Linked DNA regions of Homo sapiens. The protein of the gene in region 1 purifies or fractionates together with the protein of each later gene. This does not show direct contact. Each region holds a gene or a part of one and is shown on either strand. Other genes may lie near its edges.

What was found.
Region 2: the proteins of PCNX3 (region 1) and SLC18A1 purify together in Homo sapiens (co-immunoprecipitation; one large-scale study listed by IntAct). This does not show direct contact.
Region 3: the proteins of PCNX3 (region 1) and SYT11 purify together in Homo sapiens (co-immunoprecipitation; one large-scale study listed by IntAct). This does not show direct contact.

The regions. Positions count from the first base shown.
Region 1 is NC_000011.10:65,625,677-65,629,324, forward strand, and holds part of PCNX3 (pecanex-like protein 3), read left to right. Parts: coding exon 1-68; intron 69-227; coding exon 228-378; intron 379-998; coding exon of another isoform or gene 999-1,024; exon of another isoform or gene 1,025-1,221; intron 1,222-1,227; coding exon 1,228-1,372; intron 1,373-1,728; coding exon 1,729-1,906; intron 1,907-2,918; coding exon 2,919-3,027; intron 3,028-3,142; coding exon 3,143-3,272; intron 3,273-3,648.
Region 2 is NC_000008.11:20,145,072-20,148,719, reverse strand, and holds part of SLC18A1 (chromaffin granule amine transporter), read left to right. Parts: intron 1-649; coding exon 650-713; intron 714-997; coding exon 998-1,117; intron 1,118-1,328; coding exon 1,329-1,462; intron 1,463-2,843; coding exon 2,844-2,957; 3' UTR 2,958-3,648.
Region 3 is NC_000001.11:155,876,567-155,880,214, reverse strand, and holds part of SYT11 (synaptotagmin-11), read right to left. Parts: intron 1-3,648. UniProt on the Homo sapiens protein: Synaptotagmin family member involved in vesicular and membrane trafficking which does not bind Ca(2+). Inhibits clathrin-mediated and bulk endocytosis, functions to ensure precision in vesicle retrieval.

The DNA.
Region 1 (3,648 bases):
TGATGTGTGTGGTGATCGCCGTGCTCACCTTCGCCATCAGCGCCAGCACCGTCTTTATTGCCCTGAAGGTTTGTGTGGCATGGGCCGCTGCTGCCTCTCGCTGTCTTGGCGGGAGCCTGCTCAATCTGAGTGCCGTGGGCAGCCCCTCCCCGGCCTGTGCCAGGTGGCCCTCTGTGGTCCCTTGGCCTGCTCCCATCAGCTGAGTCTCTGGCCTCTCCCTCCTGCAGTCGGTGCTGGGTTTCGTGTTGTACGCACTGGCTGGGGCCGTGGGCTTCTTCACACATTACCTGCTGCCACAACTCCGCAAACAGCTGCCCTGGTTCTGCCTGTCACAGCCCGTGCTGAAGCCGCTGGAGTACAGCCAGTATGAAGTGCGCGGTGAGTGCCCACCCCTGATGGCCAGGCCTGGGCAGTGGCTCGGGCTGCAGCCTGGCTGGTGGGAGCTGTGGTCCTCTCGGCTCAGGAGTGCCAGCAGGGGGCACTCGCTGCCCACACTACCCTTTCTGCTCCCTCCCTGCCCTCTGTGTCCGTGTTGCCCGGCTGCGCTCTCCACCGACTCTTCTCCTCGTGCCCTGCTGTGCCCTTCCCTTGCCTGTGTTGCCCTGGTCCTGCCCTCCTTCCTGTCTGTGAGAAGACGGAAGAATTAGAACCCCAGGGCCCTGAAGGGATCTCTTGTCCAGAATTAAACACTGATCACCAGTGGACCAGAGCTGCCTGGAGCACATCTTCACTGGGCTGCATAATGGTTTTTAAAAAATCCTGGAGCCTCTATTTTAGCATCTCGATTTGAGATATGAAGATCCATGTTTCTTGAGTTTTTCTTAAACGACAGAAGATTTTGCTTCCCAGACTAGCATCCCTCTGTGGCTACAACCAGCCTGAACCGAGGGGTCTGCCCTTTAGAAGGGCCCAGCTCACGGGCTCACTGTGCACTCAGGCCCTAGCCAGCCTGCTGTACGTAGGTGTTTGCGATTTCATCATTGGCCTTGTTTTAACAGACAGCAGAGCAGAGCACCTGCCATAAAGCAAGCCTCGATGTGCTAAGTGCCATGTGGAGCCCTTGCCCTGCTGGGGCTCGCTGCTCCCATTTGAGCTGCCACAGATCAGCCCCTCCCCCCAGGGTCTCCGAGGAGTCAGGACCGCACAGCCTGCCCTCCTAGGGAAGGACTTCCTCAGGGAAGGCAGGCATGTGGAAGCCAGGTGCAGAGTCCTGGCCTCTCCACACAGGTGCCGCCCAGGTGATGTGGTTTGAGAAGCTGTATGCTGGCCTGCAGTGCGTAGAGAAGTACCTCATCTACCCCGCCGTGGTGCTCAACGCCCTCACGGTGGACGCCCACACAGTCGTCAGCCACCCGGACAAGTACTGCTTCTAGTGAGGACCACCCCACCCTCAACGATCCCATCATCCGCTTTCCCTTTTGATCCGTGGGGAAACTGAGGCCTAGAGAGGGAATGAATCATGTCTAAGGTTGTTTAGCAAGCTAAAGCAGGACCCCAGCTCCTGACACGCCATCCCAGGAAGTGGTTGCTTCTTCAAAGGCAAATGTGTTCCCACCACTCCCTTTGGAAGAGCAGAGACTAAGAGTCACGGGCCCAAAAGAGCAGGGACCAGCCCAGCAGAGCAGAGGCCAGGGGTTGCTCTCCGGCCAGAGTAGGCGAGGGATGGGACACCTATACCCACTGCCCCGGTCCCCTACCAAGCACCCGATGCCTGCCCCTTGCCCACAGCTGCCGGGCGCTGCTGATGACCGTGGCTGGGCTGAAGCTGCTGCGCTCAGCCTTCTGCTGCCCCCCACAGCAGTACCTGACGTTGGCCTTCACCGTCCTGCTCTTCCACTTTGACTACCCGCGCCTCTCCCAGGGCTTTCTGCTTGACTACTTCCTCATGTCCCTGCTTTGCAGCAAGGTGAGTTGGTGGCTGTGGCCCAGACCCCAGGCTGTCCAATGGGAGCAGAGCCAACTTCTGCCTGGGTGGGAAGAGAATTTCCTGAGGGCCTGTGGCCACCGCTCTGTATCAGCCCCGTGGGCCTTTGCAGCAGCCTCTCAAGGAAGGGGTTACTTCCACCCTCTACAGAGAGGAAGCAGGCTGAAGGAGGTTGAGGGACTTGCCTCAGGCTTCCAGAGAATTGGTGGTCAGCCAGGATTTGAACCCAGGCCTGTCTGACCCCACGACCACCTCCTCAGAAATGGTTAGGGTAATCAGGACCTGGCCTTATCCTCTGGACGCAGACCTCTGAGTTCCACGCTCTTTTGCCACCCTGGATCCAGAGCAGTCCGAGCTGAGTTTCAGAAGCCCCTAGTGCCTGGGTGTGTATAGGTGCTCTGCCGGCTGTGGCATTGCCACGGCTTGGGGGGCTCTTTGAACTAAGGAACCATGCTCCTACACTCTACTGGAGGCCAGCAGTGGTACCTGGAACCCCAGGCAGGCCTGAGCCTTTTTCTTCCTCACGTGGGCATTCTGTTCTTGTTTTCTGGCCTGGCCCAGGATGGCGGTCATCCACACTGCGTACCCTCTGAGGGCAGGGCCTGTGGCTGTTCTCAATTTTCAGTACTATAGTCTAGCTTCAGCCTCACCAGTGACCTAGTGGCGTGACCTGAGGAAGTCATTTATCTTCTCTGTCTTCACTGAACCTCAACTTTCCCATCTGTGAAAAGGGGCCAGCAATAGGAATAAGAAGCTCACAGGGTACTTGTGTGAACTAAATGGCCACCGCCCCCTTTGAGCTCAGGCAGGGGTTGCTAATGGCATCAGGCGCCTTGAGCCATGTCCAGAGCACAAGGGCTGGCAGTGACCTTGAGTTTGGCCCCCGTGGGCCAAGCCAGTGCGATGACCCAAGCCTCTGAATGGGGCCTGGCATCCGGGGGCTTCCATGAGTGACCCTGCATGTCTTTTTTCTTCTCCCTGTTGGCCCTGCCAGCTGTGGGACTTGCTGTACAAGCTGCGTTTCGTGCTGACCTACATCGCGCCCTGGCAGATCACCTGGGGCTCGGCTTTCCACGCTTTTGCCCAGCCGTTTGCCGTGCCACGTATCCAGCCTGTGTTTGGGTGGGGGTGTGCAGGGAGGGCTGTGGCCTGGGGCAGTGGGGGGTGGTGGGGGGCTGGGAGGTCCTGTTGCCCGCCGCCTCCTTGACTGTGGCTCAGACTCGGCCATGCTGTTCGTCCAGGCCCTGCTCTCGGGGCTCTTCTCCACGCCTCTCAACCCACTGCTAGGCAGTGCCGTCTTCATCATGTCCTACGCTCGGCCCCTCAAGTTCTGGGAGCGCGACTACAAGTGAGTCTCACAGGAGGCGGGAGCATGCCCAGCAGGGCAGGAAGGGAGAGGTTTGGAGCCCAGGCTGGAGGCCACCCACAGAGGGGCCCACAGCAGGTATGGGAGGGCTTGGTCACAGTGGGGACACATGAGGCGGCAGATCCAATGCAGGGAGAGCCTGCACCAGGCCAAGGCTTCAGGCTCACAGCTTGGGGATAGTGGGGTCTGGGGATGAGCTTAGCCTCCCAGCTTCTTGGCTGTGTGTCCTGTGTGAGTCCCTTCATGTACCTGAGCCTCAGTCTCCTCATCTGCCTGCATAACGGGGCTGTCCTGGATGGCGTTGACCTTGTGGCACAGGGAGAGCATGAGCAGGGTGCACCCTCTCTTCACCTTCTTG
Region 2 (3,648 bases), on another chromosome or scaffold:
CAGGTTTGAATGGCAGGTACCCAGAGAGGGAGGTAAGGAACCTGAAAAAGAGGGAAGAAGGGGTTTTTGTTGGGGGATTGGGAGGGCAATGGGAATGAGTCTCACAAGCTTCCTGACAGGGGACCCAAGCCACACCACCTGCCCCCTCTAGCTTACAGCTAACTGGTTGTTGGGGCCTCTTCTCTATCTTCTTTTTCCAACAGCTACCAAGTTAGAAGTCTAAATGAAACCTTTCAGTGATGTCCATAATGGAAAACAGAGGCAACTTTATTCCATGAAGAATGAGACCAGGAGTGTATGTTTAGGTGAAGAGGGGTAGAGGAAGGGGAGAAAGTATCCATGGAACAGAGGAAGACCCTCGTTAGAGCATAATGGAGCCAAGTCTGAGGTCCAAACTTGATCTTGCCACTCATTAGATCTGTAACTCTGGATAGAGCAATAAATAAACACAACAGCGCTGGTCAAGTTTTCATATCCTTAAAATGGAGGTATAGATTCTTTTCCATGAGAAAGTCTGAGAGTGCAGGAGGATGATGTATGTGGCCAATAGTGCACTCTGAATAAATGCATTTCATGTGAAAACTCTTTGAACCTTGCTCCCACCTGACCCATCTGGAGTCCTGATGACTCTTCCTCCTTCCCCATGCAGGTTCCTCTGGCTCACAATATTTTTGGTCTCATTGGCCCCAATGCAGGGCTTGGCCTTGCCATAGGTAAGAAGTGCCCTCAAAGAAAACAATAAGCCCCTGCATGTTGGCTTTGGGTCTGATGCCTTTCCTCCCCCTTTTCTCATCAGAGGAGGTAGGTGCAGAGGCAGAAGGATCAGGAGGGCAGCTGGCAGGGTTGTGGAGAGATGAGCTCGTAATTCCCACCTGGAACAGGTGTTAGTCCGAGGCAGAAGACAGCAGACAAAGCAAATGGACTAAATGGAGGAGGAGAGGCGGGGTGGTACTAACTGTGGGTGGGGCTGACTGTGTCCTGTTTGCTCTGGCCACAGGCATGGTGGATTCTTCTATGATGCCCATCATGGGGCACCTGGTGGATCTACGCCACACCTCGGTGTATGGGAGTGTCTACGCCATCGCTGATGTGGCTTTTTGCATGGGCTTTGCTATAGGTATGTTGGCAGGACCTGGTGCCCCACTTTCCCCTGTCTACTCTTTACCAGCTGGAAGTGCAGCCAGGAAGCTATCCTCCTAGGGTTCTGGAGATCTTTGACGCTGAGACATCCTCTGGGTCACCCACTGCCCCTAGCATAGTGTCCTACGTGGAGGATGCTCCATATGGAGGCTCCATAGACACTTATGACTTTGATGTATCCCTCCCAGGTCCATCCACCGGTGGTGCCATTGTAAAGGCCATCGGTTTTCCCTGGCTCATGGTCATCACTGGGGTCATCAACATCGTCTATGCTCCACTCTGCTACTACCTGCGGAGCCCCCCGGCAAAGGAAGAGAAGCTTGTAAGGAGCACCGACTGTTAAAAGAGAAATTCACTTCTGTTTCTTTCCATCATCTCTCTCATTCCCTTTCATCCTGGGCTGTTATTTCCTCCCTCTATTGCTCTGTTGATACTCTCTCTGCTTTGCCATGTTTCCCAATCCCCTTTCATCTTCATATTTCTTTTGTGCACTTCCTTAATTTCCCTTCTCTAAGTAACCACTTCCCTCTTTCTGGGGCTATCAGGAAGGGTCTTCAGTAGAGAAGGGAAATGGGGGCAGAGGACCATCAAAGACATCCTGTAGTTACTGTTCTTAGCTTGCTAGTTACTAGCAAGATGTGAGTTACCAAGTTAACTCCCTCATAAGTGGGCAGAATTCCATTGGCACATCCGTTCATCCACTCATTCACTCTAGTGCAACATTATCCTTACCAGGTCACTTTTTTTTTTTTTTTTTGATGGAGTTTCACTCTTGTTGCCCAGGGTGGAGTGTAATAGTGTGATCTCGGCTCACCACAACCTCTGCCTCCCGGGTTCAAGAGATTCTCCTGCCTTGGCATCCCAAGTAGCTGGGATTACAGGCATGTACCACCATGTCTGGCTAATTTTTTGTATTTTTAGTAGAGATGGGGTTTATCCATGTTGGTCAGCAGGTCACGTTTTTAAAAGTACAAAAACCCCAGGGAAGAGATCCATACCATAGGATTTTCTTTAATAAAGCACTTTCCTCTTACTGCAGCACAAACATCCTGAGGGCCTGATGGGTTTGGGATACCGACAGAGGCTGCTCAAGGGAACAAAAGAAGACATGAAGGTGTGATAGGGAGTGGTGGTGATTCCATTTGGCTTCCTGCTGTAACTTTCACTACCACTGTTAAATTCAGTTAAAAGCAAATGAGATACTTGTCCTGACAAGGGTTGATATACTAGGTACCCCGGGAGGCTGGTGCATGTACATGCAGAGGGTCCTATGCATGTTTCTTGAGTACTTAGCAATGCCAGCCTTGGAAGAACTAGTGGGAGGACGGAATGAGGAGATTGGTAAAAAAAAGATGTGCGGTGGTTGGCCGGGCGCGGTGGCTCACGCCTGTAATCCCAGCACTTTAGGAGGCTGAGGCGGGCGCATCACGAGGTCAGGAGATCGAGACCATTCTGGCTAACATGGTGAAACCCCGTCTCTGCTAAAAATACAAAAAATTAGCCTGGCGTGGTGATGGGCGCCTGTAGTTCCAGCTACTCTGGAGGCTGAGGCAGGAGAACGGCATGAACCCGGGAGGCGGAGCTTGCAGTGAGCCGAGATTGCGCCACTGCACTCCAGCCTGGGCAACAGAGCGAGACTCCGTCTCAAAAAAAAAAAAATGATAATAATGTGCAGTGGCTTCTCTTCTTGCCTCTCTCTGCAGGCTATTCTGAGTCAGGACTGCCCCATGGAGACCCGGATGTATGCAACCCAGAAGCCCACGAAGGAATTTCCTCTGGGGGAGGACAGTGATGAGGAGCCTGACCATGAGGAGTAGCAGCAGAAGGTGCTCCTTGAATTCATGATGCCTCAGTGACCACCTCTTTCCCTGGGACCAGATCACCATGGCTGAGCCCACGGCTCAGTGGGCTTCACATACCTCTGCCTGGGAATCTTCTTTCCTCCCCTCCCATGGACACTGTCCCTGATACTCTTCTCACCTGTGTAACTTGTAGCTCTTCCTCTATGCCTTGGTGCCGCAGTGGCCCATCTTTTATGGGAAGACAGAGTGATGCACCTTCCCGCTGCTGTGAGGTTGATTAAACTTGAGCTGTGACGGGTTCTGCAAGGGGTGACTCATTGCATAGAGGTGGTAGTGAGTAATGTGCCCCTGAAACCAGTGGGGTGACTGACAAGCCTCTTTAATCTGTTGCCTGATTTTCTCTGGCATAGTCCCAACAGATCGGAAGAGTGTTACCCTCTTTTCCTCAACGTGTTCTTTCCCGGGTTTTCCCAGCCGAGTTGAGAAAATGTTCTCAGCATTGTCTTGCTGCCAAATGCCAGCTTGAAGAGTTTTGTTTTGTTTTTTTTCATTTATTTTTTTTTTTAATAAAGTGAGTGATTTTTCTGTGGCTAAATCTAGAGCTGCTAAAAGGGCTTTACCCTCAGTGAAAAGTGTCTTCTATTTTCATTATCTTTCAGAAACAGGAGCCCATTTCTCTTCTGCTGGAGTTATTGACATTCTCCTG
Region 3 (3,648 bases), on another chromosome or scaffold:
CCTGACTATTTCTCTTTTTTTTTGAGACAGGTTCTCACTCTGTTGCCCAGATTGGAATTCAGTGACGTGATCTTGGCTCACTGCAGCCTCCATCTCCTGGACTCTAGCAATCCTCCCACCTCAGCCTCCTGAGTAGCTAGGACTACAGGTGTGTGCCACCACATCTGGCTAATTTTTCTTTTTTCTATACACAGAGTCTCACTGTGTAGCCCAGGCTGGTCTTGAATTCCTGGTCTCAAGTGATCCTCCCGCCTCAGCCTCCCAAAATGCTGGGATTACAGGCATAAGCCACCATGCCCAGTTGCTATTTCTTATCTGTGACCTTGGACAAGTTACTCAACATCTCTGTACTTCAGTTTCCTCACCTATAAAATGTGGGTGAAAGGTTGTACCTACCACATAGCATTATCAGAAGGATTAAATAAGTTAAAATTTGTAAACTGCAATGGTGCCCAGCACATAGTGCGCACTATAGAAGTGCATCCTCTCATTTGGTTCTTATCCTTTAAAAAGTTCTGAAGACTGTACAGTGGGAGGTAGGAGAACTGGGTTTGAATCTTAACCTTGCCACTTACTCACCACATGTCCTTGGGCAAGTCCCTGAACCTGTCCCTGCATTTCACAGGGTGAATATCCACACCTGCTCTGCCCACCCCAATGTGCACTCCAGTGTATCTTCTCCAGCCAAGTCAGCTTCCTCCCCAGCACCCTGATCTTTGTTTCTCCATCTTTAAATGTGATGCTAGGCTCCATTTTGAGCTTGAAAAAACCTCTAGTCCTCCAATAACTTTTTTTTTGAGACAGAGGCTCGCTCTTGTCGCCCAGGCTGGAGTGCAGTGGCGTGATCTCGGCTCACTGCAACCTCTGCCTCCCAGGTTCAAGTGATTCTCCTGTCTCAGCCTCCAGAGTAGCTGGGATTACAGGTGCCCGCCACCATGCCCGGCTAATTTTTGTATTCTTAGTAAAGACAGGATTTCACCATGTTGGCCAGGCTGGTCTCGAACTCCTGACCTCAAGTGATCTGTCTACCTCGGCCTCCCAAAGTGCTGGGATTACAAGCGTGAGCCACCGTGCCTGGCCCCTCCAAGAACATTTTAAAGAACATTTTCATAGGCACTGCATGCCAGGTTTTGAGGATCCAGAGCTGATGGGACTCAGTTGTTGCTCCCAAGGAGCTTACCACTTAGTAGAAGAGTCAGAGAAGTAAATAAACCTGTGCGGGACTTGTCAGAGAAATGAGAAGCCTGTCTAAGTGCTCTGGGCACCTAGAGCTGGGAGATTCAGGGGAGGCTTTTTTAATTAATTAATTAATTAATTTATTTATTTATTTTTTAATTTTATTTTTTGAGACAGAGTCTCTCGCTCTGTCACCCAGGCTGGAGTGTAGTGGCGAGACCTCGGCTCACTGCAACCTCCGCCTCCCAGGTTCATGCCATTCTCCTGCCTCATCCTCCTGAGTAGCTGGGACTACAGGCGCCCGCCACCACGCCCGGCTAATTTTTTTTGTATTTTTAGTAGAGACGGGGCTTCACCATGTTAGCCAGGATGGTCTTGATCTCCTGACCTCATGATCCGCCCGTCTCGGCCTCCCAAAGTGCTGGGATTACAGGCGTGAGCCACCGCGCCCGGCCATGGAGATTCAGGGAAGGCTTTACCAGCTGATGCCTGGACTGAGTTGATGGGGGTACAAAACCATGAAGCAATGGGCAGAGGGATGATCATATCAGGCAGATTGACAGAAATGGCTGGTACAAAGGAGTTGGGCCTGAAAAGGTAAGCTGTGTTCAGAGAATGGTTGAGAGGTGAATATGCCTGAAGTGGGGGTGGCTGATAGGAGGGGTAGGTCAGGAACCTGGAAAGGTGGGCAAGGCTAGAGTAAAGGGCTGTTGGGACACTACCAAAGAGCAGAGTCAGCAGCACCCATACAAGAGGAGGTTGGTGAGTATAGGAGTGGCAAAGCTGTCATTTTTTTGAGTCAGGGTCTCACTCTGTTGCCCAGGCTGAAGGACAGTGGTGAGATCTCGGCTTTCTGCAACCTCCACCTCCTGGGCTCAGGAGATCCTCCCACCTCAGCATCCCAGGTAGCTGGGACTACAGGTGTGCACCAACATGCCAGGCTACATTTTGTATTTTTTGTAAAGACAGGGTCTCACTATGTTGCCCAGGCTGATCTCAAATTCCTGGGGTCAAGCAATCCGCCCACCTTGGCCTCCCAAACTGCTGGGATTGCAGGTGTAAGCCACCATGCCTGGCCAGTTGTCATCATTTTATTAAAATTATTATTATTTCAGAGAAAGGTGGAAAATGAGCTAAAGTCGAGGAAGACCAACATCAGAAAGCTCAGTTAAGAGGCCGCTATAGCCGGGAGCAGTGGCTCATGCCTGTAATCCTAGCACTTTGGGAGGCCGAGGCAGGCGGATCACGAGTTCAGGAGATCGAGACCATCCTGGCTAACACGGTGAAACCTGGTATCTACTAAAAAAATACAAAAAAATTAGCCGGGCGTGGTGACTGGCGCCTGTAGTCCCAGCAACTGGGGAGGCTGCGGCAGGAGAATGGCGTGAACCCGGGAGGCGGAGCTTGCAGTGAGCCGAGATTGCGCCACTGCACTCCGGCCTGGGCAACAGAGCGAGACTCTGTCTCAAAAAAAAAAAAAAAAAATTAGCTGGGCGCAGTGGCGTGTGCCTATAGAGCCAGCTACTTGGGAGGACTGATTGAGCCCCGGAGATCGAAGCTGCAGTGAGCTGTGTTTGAGCCACTGCACTTCAGCCTTGGTGACAGAGTGAGACCCTGTCAAAAAGAAGCTGCTGTGGCTGGGCGCAGTGGCTCACGACTCTATTCCCAGCACTTTGAGAGGTCAAGGCAGGTGGATCACCTGAGGTCAGGAGTTCGAGACCAGCCTGGCCAACATGGTGAAACCTCATCTCTACTAGAAATAGAAAAATTAGGCCGGGCGCAGTGGCTCACACCTGTAATCCCAGCAATTTGGGAGGCTGAGGTGGGCGGATCACGAGGTCAGGAGATTGAGACCATCCTGGCTAACAAGGTGAAACCCTGTCTCTACTAAAAATACAAAAAAATTAGCCAAGCATGGTGGCGGGTGCCTGTAGTCCCAGCTACTTAGGAGGCTGAGGCAGGAGAATGGCGTGAACCCGGGAGGCAGAGCTTGCAGTGAGCCGAGATTGTAGTCACTGCACTCCAGCTTGGGCAACAGAGCAAGACTCCGTCTCAGGAAAAAAAAAAAAAAAAAGAAATAGAAAAATTAGCCGGGTGTGGTGGCGGGCGCCTGTAACCCCAGCTACTCAGGAGGCTGAGGCAGGAGAATCGCTTGAACCAAGGAGGTGGAGGTTGAGGTGAACCTTGATCACGCCACTGCACTCCAGCCTGGGCGACAGAGTGAGACTCCATCTCAAAAAAGCAGACTTCGTTGTTCTGTAGCAACGTGCTACAGAAGAAATGATTGGGACTGGAACTAGGGCTGTGGCAGAGGAGATGGACATGGAGGTAAAATATGTCTCAGGAAGAATTGTCAGGGGTTTTTAGGCTTGGGCAGTTAATTGGCTGTGAAGCGTAGGGAAGAGGGAGGAAAGGGTGGACTATTTCTTGTGTTTTTAGCTTTAGAAAGTGGGGATGAGGCTGGGATAAAGA